3 linked regions of the Homo sapiens genome follow. The protein of the gene in region 3 purifies or fractionates together with the protein of the main gene of each other region. This does not show direct contact. Each region holds a gene or a part of one and is shown on either strand. Other genes may lie near its edges. The genes, in order: MTHFD1L, GCH1 and MAPK10.

Region 1 (3,654 bases), on a different chromosome or scaffold from region 3:
TTTTCATGAATCCACTTTTTATATAAAGCTTCCTTTGTTGGGTCTCATTTTCACAAAACTAATTTTTATTTTGTTTTTTTGTTTTCTCTTTAGATTATAGATGAAATCTTAAAGATCAATGAAGATACCAGAGTACATGGCCTTGCCCTTCAGATCTCTGAGAACTTGTTTAGCAACAAAGTCCTCAATGCCTTGAAACCAGAAAAAGATGTGGATGGGTAAGAAAATAAAATCAAATAATCAACCTTTATGGCTAAATCACTTTTTCTATTGTGCCTGCTTTTATTTTTCTAAATTTCTTCTATTTATTTCAACTGTGTCAGTAATTGGATAAAAAAATCATTTTAAATATTTCAGGAGTCTATAGGATTTTTTTTTTTTTGAGATGGAGTCTCGCTCTGTTGCCCAGGCTAGAGTGCAGTGGCGTGATCTTGGCTCACCACAACCTCCATCTCCTGGGTTCAAGCGATTTTCCTGCCTCAGCCTCCTGAGTAGCTGGGATTACAGGCATGCGCTACCATGCCTGGCTAATTTTTGTATTTTTAGTAGAGACGGGGTTTTACCATGTTGGCCAGGATGGTGTCTATCTCCTGACCTTGTGATCCACTCACCTCAGCCTCCCAAAATGTTGGGATTACAGGCGTGAGCCACCGTGTCTGGCCATCTGTAGCCTTTTAAAATTCTGCATGCAAAAGTTACATATTTTGGAAAATACATTAGCCCTTTTATAGTGCTTCAATGCCATATGATCTTACACCATCAGATTCATTTAATAAATTCCGGTCTGACTTATACAATCTTTAGCCAGCTCTATTCTTCTAATAGTTTTTTCCTTGGTAATTCTACCAGACCAGAGAAGAAAACTTAGAAACCTGATTCCCCAGCAGTACCATATTCTGTCTTAGTCCCAGGCCAGTTGAGAAAAGCAAAATAAATACTTTTCTTAATGACACAAGGTTTTATTTGAAATTTGGAGGGGAACATCATAACTATTGGGTGCTGTAATGTTGGCCTGTGATTCATGTCATGGAGTGACATAAGCTTCATAGAACAAAGGATACCGGCCGTCTCCAGTGGGGGATAAGCATGCTTCCTGGGGATTAAAACCCCATTTTCCTCCATGGAAATATAGGAAGTGTTTTGTACTGTGGCCAAAAAGAACACAATGTGTTAATGGTTATAGGTTGTAAGCAGATTTATAAAGTTAGATTCCAGATCCGGTAGACCCTGCAGGGGCTGGATGGGGAGGCTACCACCTTCCTGAGACACCCAGCAATCTTCCATTCTAGCCTTTTATTGTGACTTGAGTAGACCCAAACACAGGCTGAAAAGGTGTCATGAACACCTCCAGTCCTGGCTGGGCACAGTGGCTCACACCTGTAATCCTAGCACTTTGGGAGGCCAAGGCAGGAGGATCTCTTGATCTCAGGAGGTCAAGACCAGCCTGGACAACATAGTGAGACCTCATCTCTATTTTTTTTTTTTTTTTTTGAGACAGAGTCTCACTCTGTTGCCCAGGCTGGAGTGCAGTGACACGATCTCGGCTCACTGCAAGCTCTGCCTCCTGGGTTCACACCATTCTCCTGCCTCAGCCTCCCGAGTAGCTGGGACTACAGGTGCCCACCACCACACCTGGCTAATTTTTGTACTTTTAGTAGAGACGAGGTTTCACCGTGTTAGCCAGGATGGTCTCGATCTCCTGACCTCGTGACCCGCCTGCCTCGGCCTCCCAAAGTGCTGGGATTACAGGAGTGAGCCACCGCGCCTGGCCCCTTGTCTCTATTTTTAAGTAAATAATTAAACATTTTTTTAAAAAACGACAATCTCCAGTCCTGTCGTAGACTAACTGTAAAAGGAGAAGAAGCACTAATCCATGAGAAAACTTTCAGAACTTGAAGGTCCTAGGGCATAGTTTCAAGTCTTTCATAAAAGGAGGGGAATTCATGCTGAGGCCCAGCCAGGAAAAACCAACCAAACAAAAACAACAGAGAGTAAAAGGAGAAATTACGAAAATGGTTCTAAATGTCTCCATTCTGTTACTGAGATTGACGTGCTCAGTTTAGGCTAGATAGCTGTGGAATGTTTTGTCCTAGATTTGAACAGGGAAAGGCACAGAACCCTTCAGAAGTGTGTGGTCACTCATTTTTTCCACTGCCCCCCACCCCGACTTCTCAAGGAGATAAATATCGAGGTCAAGTTGAAATCAGACCTGTGACCTGTGCCTCAATCCCAGGTCTTACTGGGTCACTCCAGATTTATAGGATTGGTTCTGGGTTTTGAGTGGACTGCAGGACCATGCTTCTGTGTAACTCTAGGGATGCTAGTCCATTGGGGTCCATTGAAAGGAGCTCCCTGGAGTTGCGAAGTGAAGCCCTGTATGGCTTTAGGCTGTGTCCTGGTATATTGGCAGAACCGGAACACCCAATGTCAGGGCCAGGGTGAAGTTTCCTAAGGTACTGCCTTAGAATTTTCTAAGACCTTTATTGAATGGCCTTTATTGCCTGCTTTCTCTTTAATTCATTTTTTATGGGTTTTTTTTTTTTTTTGAGATGGAGTCTCGCTCTGTTGCCCAGGCTGGAGTGCAGTGGCATGATCTCAACTCACTGCAACCTCTGCCTCCCAGGTTCAAGCGATCCTCCTGCCTCAGCCCCCTAGTAGCTGGGATTACAGGCACGTGCCATCACGCCCAGCTACCTTTTGTATTTTTAGTGGAGTTGAGGTTTCGCCATGTTGGCCAGGCTAGTCTCGAGCTCCTGACCTCATGTGATCCACCCGCCTCAGCCTCCCAAAATGCTGGGATTACAGGCGTGAGCCACCATGCCTGGTCCTCTTTAATTCATTTTTATGTATTCTGTCTATCAAACATTGACTTGGATGTTATTTGGGGTTAATATATGTACATTACACGTGAGTGATTTTTTTGGCTGGGCTTTGACTTAACCTACTTCTTTATTTTCTGATTCAGAGTAACAGACATAAACCTGGGGAAGCTGGTGCGAGGGGATGCCCATGAATGTTTTGTTTCACCTGTTGCCAAAGCTGTAATTGAACTTCTTGAAAAATCAGGTAGGATGCTCCTTGAGAAATGCCGCTGATTTCTATTTATTGGTATTTACATTATTTTTAATAAGGATTTGTTTGGGGAAGAATTAAAAATTTTTTTAAATTATTATTCTGATATCCTTTTAGGATGTTTCTAGAAGATTCTAATTGAACATAGAAGTGATATTTCACGTTGACTTTTTTTATTTTTCTCATCTTTTGGGAGATACAGATGAATACCTAGAAACTTTTTCTAGTAAGACCATCTTATAAATTAAAAGAGAAATTAGTAGAGATAAACGATTAGCCCTGTTTTAAACATGCTCAATTTCTCTCATGAAACAGTCAAAATAACCACAGTAAAATATGCTTCCAGTTTCAGCTTACTAAATCTATCAATATGTAGCCTTAGATAAGACTTACGTTGAAGACTTAAATGAGGCCAGGCACAGCGGCTCATGCCTATAATCTCAGTGCTAGGCGAGGCCAAGGCCAGAGGATCACTTCAGGCCAGGAGTTCGAGACCAGCCTGGGCAAACATACTGAGACCTTGTCTCTACAAAAAAAATTTAAAAATTAGCTGGGTATGGTGGTGTGCACGTGTAGTCCCAG
Region 2 (3,654 bases), on a different chromosome or scaffold from region 3:
AGTAAAATAAGCCAGACATGAAGGACAAACATTGTATGTTTCCGGCCGGGTGCGGTGGCTCATGCCTGTAATCCCAGCACTCTAGGAGGTTGAGACAGGCCAATCACTTGAGGTTAGGACTTGGAGACCAACCTGGCTAACATGGTGAAACCCTGTCTCTGCTAAAAATACAAAAATTAGCCGAGCATGGTGGTGGGCACCTGTAATCCCAGCTACTCGGGAGGCCGAGGCAGGGTAATTGCTTGAACCTGGGCGGCAGAGGTTTCAGTGAGCTGAGATCATGCCACCGCACTCCAGCCTGGGTGACAGAGCAAGACTCTGCCTCCAAATAAATAAATATTTCTACTAATGGGCTCCAATAGAATAAAATTCTAGTAAATGAATGTCCTCTTGGCCTTGAGTATAACAGATTTAACTTGGTTCAGATACTCTTTGCATAACCCAACACAAATTATATCCCAATCTAATTACTATAGACTCTAGCAAATTTATAACCATGGGAAACATATTTGTTTGCATAACCTGGAACTGAGAATTGTTCACATAATCCAGGATTCATAATCTGGGATCCAATGATTAGACAGTTGCCCTCTCCTGGTGAGTTTTAACACTGCAGTCTACTCAACCAAATACTAGACTCAAATTACAGTCCTCATATAGAAATCACTGGCAAATGAGTCAGGTGGGGAATGCCCAGGCATGGAAGGGTTTCTAGAGGTGGACAAAGCAAATAGCAGAGAAAATACAAAAGCGGGGATAGGTGAGGAAGAAGGGAGAAATCATTCAAATAAATCAGTAAAATATTATTATTAAAATTAAATCACCTACCAGAGATTACAATGATTCTCTTTCTATATCATCCTCTCAGCTCCGCCACTTTCAAGATACAGTCTTGGGAAAGTTCTCTCTGTGCCCCAATTTCCTTATGTATAAAATGGGAATAATATTGCCTACCCCATCGTGCTACTGTGAGGATCAAATGAGGTAACACATGTAAAAACTCACTGTTTAGCACAAAGTAAGCCATCAGCAGTATTTGTTACTCAGAACATCAGTCGGCTTAAGCATCGCTTCACCCATTCATGCTCCCATCTCCTGGCATTGGTCAAGTTCCTATGCCAAGTGCTCTCACTGAGCTGTGTTTTTGTTTATCATCACATTTCTCAATCTCACAACACATTTCTATTTCATGTGATTCTATCTGCTAGGCTGTAAGTTCCATGAAGGCAGGAACTATACCTGGTTTTGCTCATCCTGCATTCCCAGCGTTCAGTGAAGTGCGTAGTACTTGATGATCAATGAAATTGTAGTAAAATTCCTACTAATTTTTTTAATAATAGTATTTAGTACTAATACAAGTTGAATTGTGCCATTCGCCAAAAAAGATATGTTGAAGTCCTAAACCCCAGGTATCTTTAGCATGTGACTTTATTTGGAAGTAGGGTTGTTGCAGATGTAATTAGCTAAACTAACACAGGCATACTGGAGTAAAGTGGACCCTGCCTCATATGACTGACATTCTTATAAGACAAAACAAAAACATGGACACTGACAGAGGCAGCGACTGGAGTGACGCAGCTCAAACCAAGGAACACCATCAACTGACGGCCACCACCAGAAGCTGGGAAGAGGCAAGGACAGCCTCCCCCACTACAGGTTCTGGAGTGAGTATGGTTCTGCTGACCCCTTGATTTTGGAACTTTAGTCTCTAGAACTGTGAGACTGTTTATTTCTGTCATTTAAACCACCTAGTTTGCGGTACTGTGTGATAGCAGCCCTGGGAATCTAGTACGAGTACCAACCTGAAGGCTTTGCTTGCTATAGTGAAGTTATGTATATTGATTTTTCTTCCCATGTCAGAAAAATTGTTTATAGATAATCCATTTTTAAAAGAAACTATTAGGATTGGCTTTTCTCCCCCTTTCTCAGTAACTTCTTAACTGTTTTATTCCACTTAGACATGTCCAAAATTCCAATCATATAATATGTCAAAAGTGCCTTGTTATTTTTTCTTCTTTATTCACAGTGCTCTTTCTGGCAATGAACACAACTAAGTCCTATATAAGTGTTCATTAACAAACCAAGCACAAAAATTATTAATGGATCAAAATTTGAGTGAGCTACACATCTAAAATAGTACCTTTTAATGATGAGAAGAGCATTTCTATAATATACTTTAAAACTTGGGATATAAACTCACCTTTCACCCATGATATAGGAGAGAATAGTAAATAGTTTATGTTTTTGTTCCTCTTCACATCTTAGAAGTTGTTAAAATTCTTAGTTCACCACAGCAGTCTAATTTAATAAATCCGAGAGGTTTGTGATTCAAAAAGAAAAACCTTTTGTGATTGCTACATTTCAGTATGAAGTGTCTAAGATGCATTTTTGTATAAACAAAGTATCTAATTGCCTCCCATTATCTTTAGCGAATAGACATAATCTTCCAGTGAAAATGGCTGAGGTGGGGATATGACTCACTGCCAGTGTCTGTGCTTCCTCAGCCCTCACAGGGAAGCAGTCAGCCATCTCCAATGCCATCTCCTCACGCTGGATTATATGCATGCTTCCCAAAATTTTGAACTGTTAACATGATTTATAAAAACTGTCTTGGCAGACAAGCTAAAACCTACTTTAACTGGAAATGTGACAGAGTCAAGACTCTTGCATATTCCCAAAAACTCATAAAAAACAACTGATGGAACAAGTTATACCCATTTAATCCTTGGTAGATAATGCTGTCTGAAAGGCTGTTCCCATGTATACCTGGAAGGGTCAGTTACAGGGGCATGAAGATCAAGGCCCTCAGAGAATAGCAGACTCTCCAATTTAACTAAGTGTAGGTTCTGAATAAAAGAATAGTGGAAATACAGGAAAGGTACCTTATATAGAAAGGAGAACTCACCAAGATAAAACCTTGAATATTTAAGAGAACTAGGATACAGCTAAACTGAAATGGCACAGAAATAGATCAAGACGAGCTGGTCTGAGCTGGTCCAAGGATCAGCTTGTGATGTAGATTCAAAGGACAGCCAGTTCCTGGGAGAGATGATAGCGTCTCCTCCAGCCCTCCCTCCTAGCCCATGAGCTACAGTCCAGTAGGGAATAGTACTAGGAAACCTATACAACCCTGACACCACCCTGGTCACAGATGACCACAGATGCTCCCATGGAAGGTACACACTGGAAAGTAGGGAAAAGGTGCACAAGGAGACAGTCATGGAGAGACGCTGCAACGTAGGGAAAACTGAACAAATTCCCCAGAATGCCAGGAATTTGGATCAATCCACACAAGAGGCACTGGGAGGAAAAATGGATTTTGAAGAATGTAAAATACCAACTTATTTTAAATTTTACAACACTTAAGTCAACATTACTAACCAGGAGTTAATATATAGAATACAGATATATAAAAGATATAAAGTCCTGTATCCTGTTTACAAGCACAGAAAAGTGACCTTCAGAGAAGTATGTTCTTATCCAAAAACAATATATAGTGGCCACTTGACTCATGCTCTCTAAAGAAATAAAAGGGATTGTGCAGAAGCGTTTATGGACCTAAAGATGTGGGTTCCCACTCACTCCTATCTCCCACCAGTATCCTTCCTTCTCCCTGCCATCCAGGTTGGTCCAAGACCCCACCACATTTCAGGT
Region 3 (4,303 bases):
AGATGTTCAGGGATGTTCTCAGTTGGACCTTTTAATAAAAAAAAACAATAAATGACCAAATTCTACTTTAAGTTATTTTAGGGTTCCAACAGTCACCCATAGACTGAACAAACTCCGAAGATTTGGCTTCATGTAAGAATGTCACTGCAAAGAAGCTTCAGTACCCATTGTGATATCATTTGCTAATTTGGAGATTGTGATGCCAAAAGTATAAGCCCCATGCTCAGTCAGCATCTAGGTCCAATAGCTCTCAGAGGAACCATACATCAAAGCAAACTTTCTGCAATGCGGAAAAGAACATCCATGCATTTTTAAAATGAATTTTAAATTTTAAATAATTTTTAAAAGTGGTTTCATCTCTTGTAATGGAAAATATTCAAAATTCTCATGCTGATTCATGAAGTATACTTATATAATTAGACAAAATAAGAACATTGAAAGAAGCAGACTCCTTGTTTCATCGCTTTAAGCAAATAATAAAAATGGACTCGTGCAAGTCACACCACTAATTTAAATACATTTTGTAAAAAGATAGCAAATAAATGAAATAAAAATATTTGCTTTAGTTTTTTTAAACAAAGATTTATTAACTCTGAATTTTTTAGGTTAAGGACCATGCAATATATATCTCCTACACCGAAGTGTCCAAGAAATGTTTTTGGAGTAAATTAATGAACTGCTTTAGAATGTTGCTCAGAAATTAAGCTAGAAATTCAGAGCAATATTCTCAGGGCTTGATTTACACCAAATCCAAGTTCGCAATGTATTAACATGAAGGAATAGGCCATTGCTTTCTGAAAACCTTCCTTTTATAAAAGAAATACTTTAATATTATGAATTCTCTTGGTCTGTGTAAAATATTATTTGCATTATAAAAATTGATTTTTTGGTATAATTGTTCATAGGCAATATTTTCACCAGGATGGGTTCACAAGTGTTAATGGAAGGCGAATTATGTGTGGGACAGTCTTCTAGGGAATATGTGAGGGGTTTTTAAGATGGATAACATTTTGTACCTGCTTTTGAGTTGCAAATGATCTGGACTGTTGGTTAAACATCGCAGACAAGATCAGGTGAAGAACATTACTAGAAGTTCAGTGATTAAGAAATAAAGCCACGTACCCCACGGAGTGAAATTTGAATTCCTTAAATTCCCTCAAATTATTTTATGTTGGATTTTACACCAGGATAGGAATGTCTTTAAAAGTAAGAAATATTTGACATAAGGTAGAAAATTTCAAAGGAGTGTTTGACTTGTTGCTGGATGTGTCACCACATTTCATGTGTCTGAGAAATATAAATTTCTACAGCACATTTTTAGTGCCTTAAACAGACTACAATGATGTAAATGGTTGAACAGTTGAAATTTAGTCTGGAACTGGGACAGATGACTTGCCACATAGAGTGGCTCCCAACATAAAGTGATCTGTGATGGCAGGACTTTCAGCGTGTTTCACTATTAGCATGTGTCATCCAAGCATGCCTTTCAACATCTGTGGAGAAAAGACATGTTACAAATACAAAACACCACCATGATGAATTGGGAATGTCAAAAACCTCTGCCTTGGCTGTGATCCAGTGTTGTTATTGGCAAGTAGATTCATCCTTCTAGGTTGGTTGCTCCATAAGTAATCTTCAAGAAAAGCAAGTCCAACACCCTTTTTTCTCCTTACTGTGAACTTGGTCAAAATTACCAAATGTTTGGTAACCATTTATGGTATCAGGAATGCACCAATAACTCCTTCTGACTCTTTAAGAGCAATCATCTTGTGGAATGCAATTTCCCTTCTTATTATTGTGGGTATTTTTAGGTACCTATGCTTGACCTTTTTTAAAGAGAGTAAGGATCTGTGATTTAAACTAGGATAGAAGCTGTTCCAGAGATAACAAAAAGCTGTTGCTTTCTATATTCCAACAGGAACTAGGTAAAACGATAAATGTGATAACTCAAAATAATGTGTATGTTTATCTTCCAGGCTTTCTAATAGTTAATTGGTTAAATAAAACATTATTTACAGAAATAGAAGAGCCACTCCTCAACTGTTCAAACACTGCAAAGTAAACTAATGCAAGTGCAGTGACCTCTTCATCCAGCCACAAAATCATATATATTTTTAATTCTCCAAGGAGTTTGAGATAGTAAAGTTGGATATCATGTAGCTAAACAAAGGCTTTTACCTTTTCTCTTGGAAAATAGTTAAAATGAATAGAAATCTGATAATTAATCTGGGAAATTTAACCCTGCTCTACTTACCTAATGCCCCCCCAAAAGATGATCTTTTTTTTCTTCATTGATTTTATACCTTAAAAAGAAATTACTGAATTGCAGATATACAACTAGTATCTACAGACAGAAATGAAGGTCAGTTTTAGAAGAAACCAGTGTCAAATGAAAACACAGATTTCTACATGGTCACATTCATATCACACACTCTTGACCCAAGGTGAGAAAGTAGGTCATTCCTTATTTCTTATTTATTCCCTGGCACAATCAGACCACACTACAAGTTTCTTTTACCAGTTGCCAAAATGAAATCATGACACCCTTCAGAGCTACTGTCGTTACATGCAACTCAAGACAACGAGCAGCATCATAACCATTGTCAACAGGCAAACTCCAACAATGTCTGGGTTTGGATTTGGTTTTATGTTGAGAGAAGCAGATTTCCTCTGATTTTAATAATCCATAAGAAACAGAAATCATAATATATTGACTCCATATTACCTAAAAAGAGTCAAAAGAAGCAGAAGTTCTCCCCCGATTCATCCTCTTGTTCCACAGACATTTTGAAAATAAAAGAAGACAAAATAGAAAGGAAAGGGTGTGAGAAAGAACACAGAAATGACTTGAACGATTTCAAATCCTTATTAAGCATCACTGAGGTTGCATTTTACCCATTAGACTGACTGAATTTAGTTCTCACTGCTCAGACCTTGCAAAGAAACTGGACGTACATGGTTTTGCCTTCCAGGGTTGATCTAGAACTGTAAGGGTGCATGTGAATGTGGGTATGCATGTGTGTGTGCTTTAAGTCCATTTTATAAACACTGACACAAGACAATTCTCATCATTGGTAATAGTCTTTGGAGTCCAATCATGCAGAAAAACAGGCAGGTGCAAGTTAGGTCTCATTGCAAGATGGACATGGCAAGGTGAACAGATAATCCTACATAAGGATTGGGAGATTTGTGTCCATTAGAATATACTGGCCATTGGTCCCACATAAGTAAAGTTACATATACAAGATTCTATATATAAACAGAGGCCCCTCACTTCAGTTTGGCTGACCAAAGAAACAGGTCAAAGTGAGCCATTTTCAGATAGTTAAAGGACTAAGTACCAAAAGAAATAACAAAATCTTATCCTCTAATCACAAAGAAAATAGCTAAAATAACTATTTACATTGCAACTTTTTTGTTGTTTTTACAGAGAGGAGTTTCCTTGCTTGGCTTAATGATATCTGTGGAAAATGTTGAACTCTTATAATTAAAATGTGTGTGGGGGATTGTGAGTGGGGAGTTGGGTTCCTCTTTGGATGCAAAGTGGCTGAGATCAAAAATTTCTAGAGCAATTTTACTCCTCTTTCTGAGCTGTAGAAGAATACATTTTTCAGCAAAGCTGGCTAATAACATGCCTTACAGAGCATAATGCACTTAAGATGTGGCTTTTCATATGTTAAGAGATTCAAATCGAAATAGATTTTGTATAATTTAGGTTTTGCAATGAATATTTACAATTTTAAAACAAATCAAGTTTGCTTATTTTTTTTTCCTTGACAGGACATAAAAGGTTTTACATATTTTTATCTATTTTTTACTAGTTCCATTTACTAAGGCCAACTTTCAGTTTTACCAGTCAGCTGCTATCAGTGTCTTTAGATAATATTTTTCTGATAACAGATTGAAAAAACTATCGAGCTTCTTAACCCTCAATTAAATAGCTTACTCCAATTGGTGGGAACTGGCCAGGCTCTGGTCCAACTGTTGGGTACATTCCTACAAAACTCAGTCATCAGATTCTTGAAGATGAAAGGTTATTATCAGTTTTTATTCCACAAGAAGAAATTCCGTTGTAAGGCTAGTGTATTCCTATTTAAAATTGAACACGCTGACCCACAAAACACATATAAAAATAGTAAAGACATATTAATAGTAAAGTGGTGGCGGTTTTGCCAAACTCTTGCAGCAGTTTAATTTTCCCTGCACATGAGTACACAGCCATCCTTCCTACAAAATACTGCAAACTATTTTATTAAGGATCACTGCAAACCAACTGCCCCAAAGGAAGCCTAACAGAAGGTTA

Evidence for each region.
Region 1: the proteins of MAPK10 (region 3) and MTHFD1L purify together in Homo sapiens (affinity purification with mass spectrometry; one large-scale study listed by BioGRID and IntAct). This does not show direct contact.
Region 2: the proteins of MAPK10 (region 3) and GCH1 purify together in Homo sapiens (affinity purification with western blotting; one study listed by BioGRID). This does not show direct contact.

What each region holds. Positions count from the first base shown.
Region 1 is NC_000006.12:150,882,669-150,886,322, forward strand, and holds part of MTHFD1L (monofunctional C1-tetrahydrofolate synthase, mitochondrial isoform 2 precursor), read left to right. Parts: intron 1-93; coding exon 94-218; intron 219-2,965; coding exon 2,966-3,066; intron 3,067-3,654. UniProt on the Homo sapiens protein: May provide the missing metabolic reaction required to link the mitochondria and the cytoplasm in the mammalian model of one-carbon folate metabolism complementing thus the enzymatic activities of MTHFD2.
Region 2 is NC_000014.9:54,892,754-54,896,407, forward strand, and holds part of GCH1 (GTP cyclohydrolase 1), read right to left. Parts: intron 1-3,654. UniProt on the Homo sapiens protein: Positively regulates nitric oxide synthesis in umbilical vein endothelial cells (HUVECs). May be involved in dopamine synthesis. May modify pain sensitivity and persistence.
Region 3 is NC_000004.12:86,009,839-86,014,141, forward strand, and holds the end of MAPK10 (mitogen-activated protein kinase 10), read right to left. Parts: 3' UTR 567-4,303; downstream 1-566. UniProt on the Homo sapiens protein: Serine/threonine-protein kinase involved in various processes such as neuronal proliferation, differentiation, migration and programmed cell death.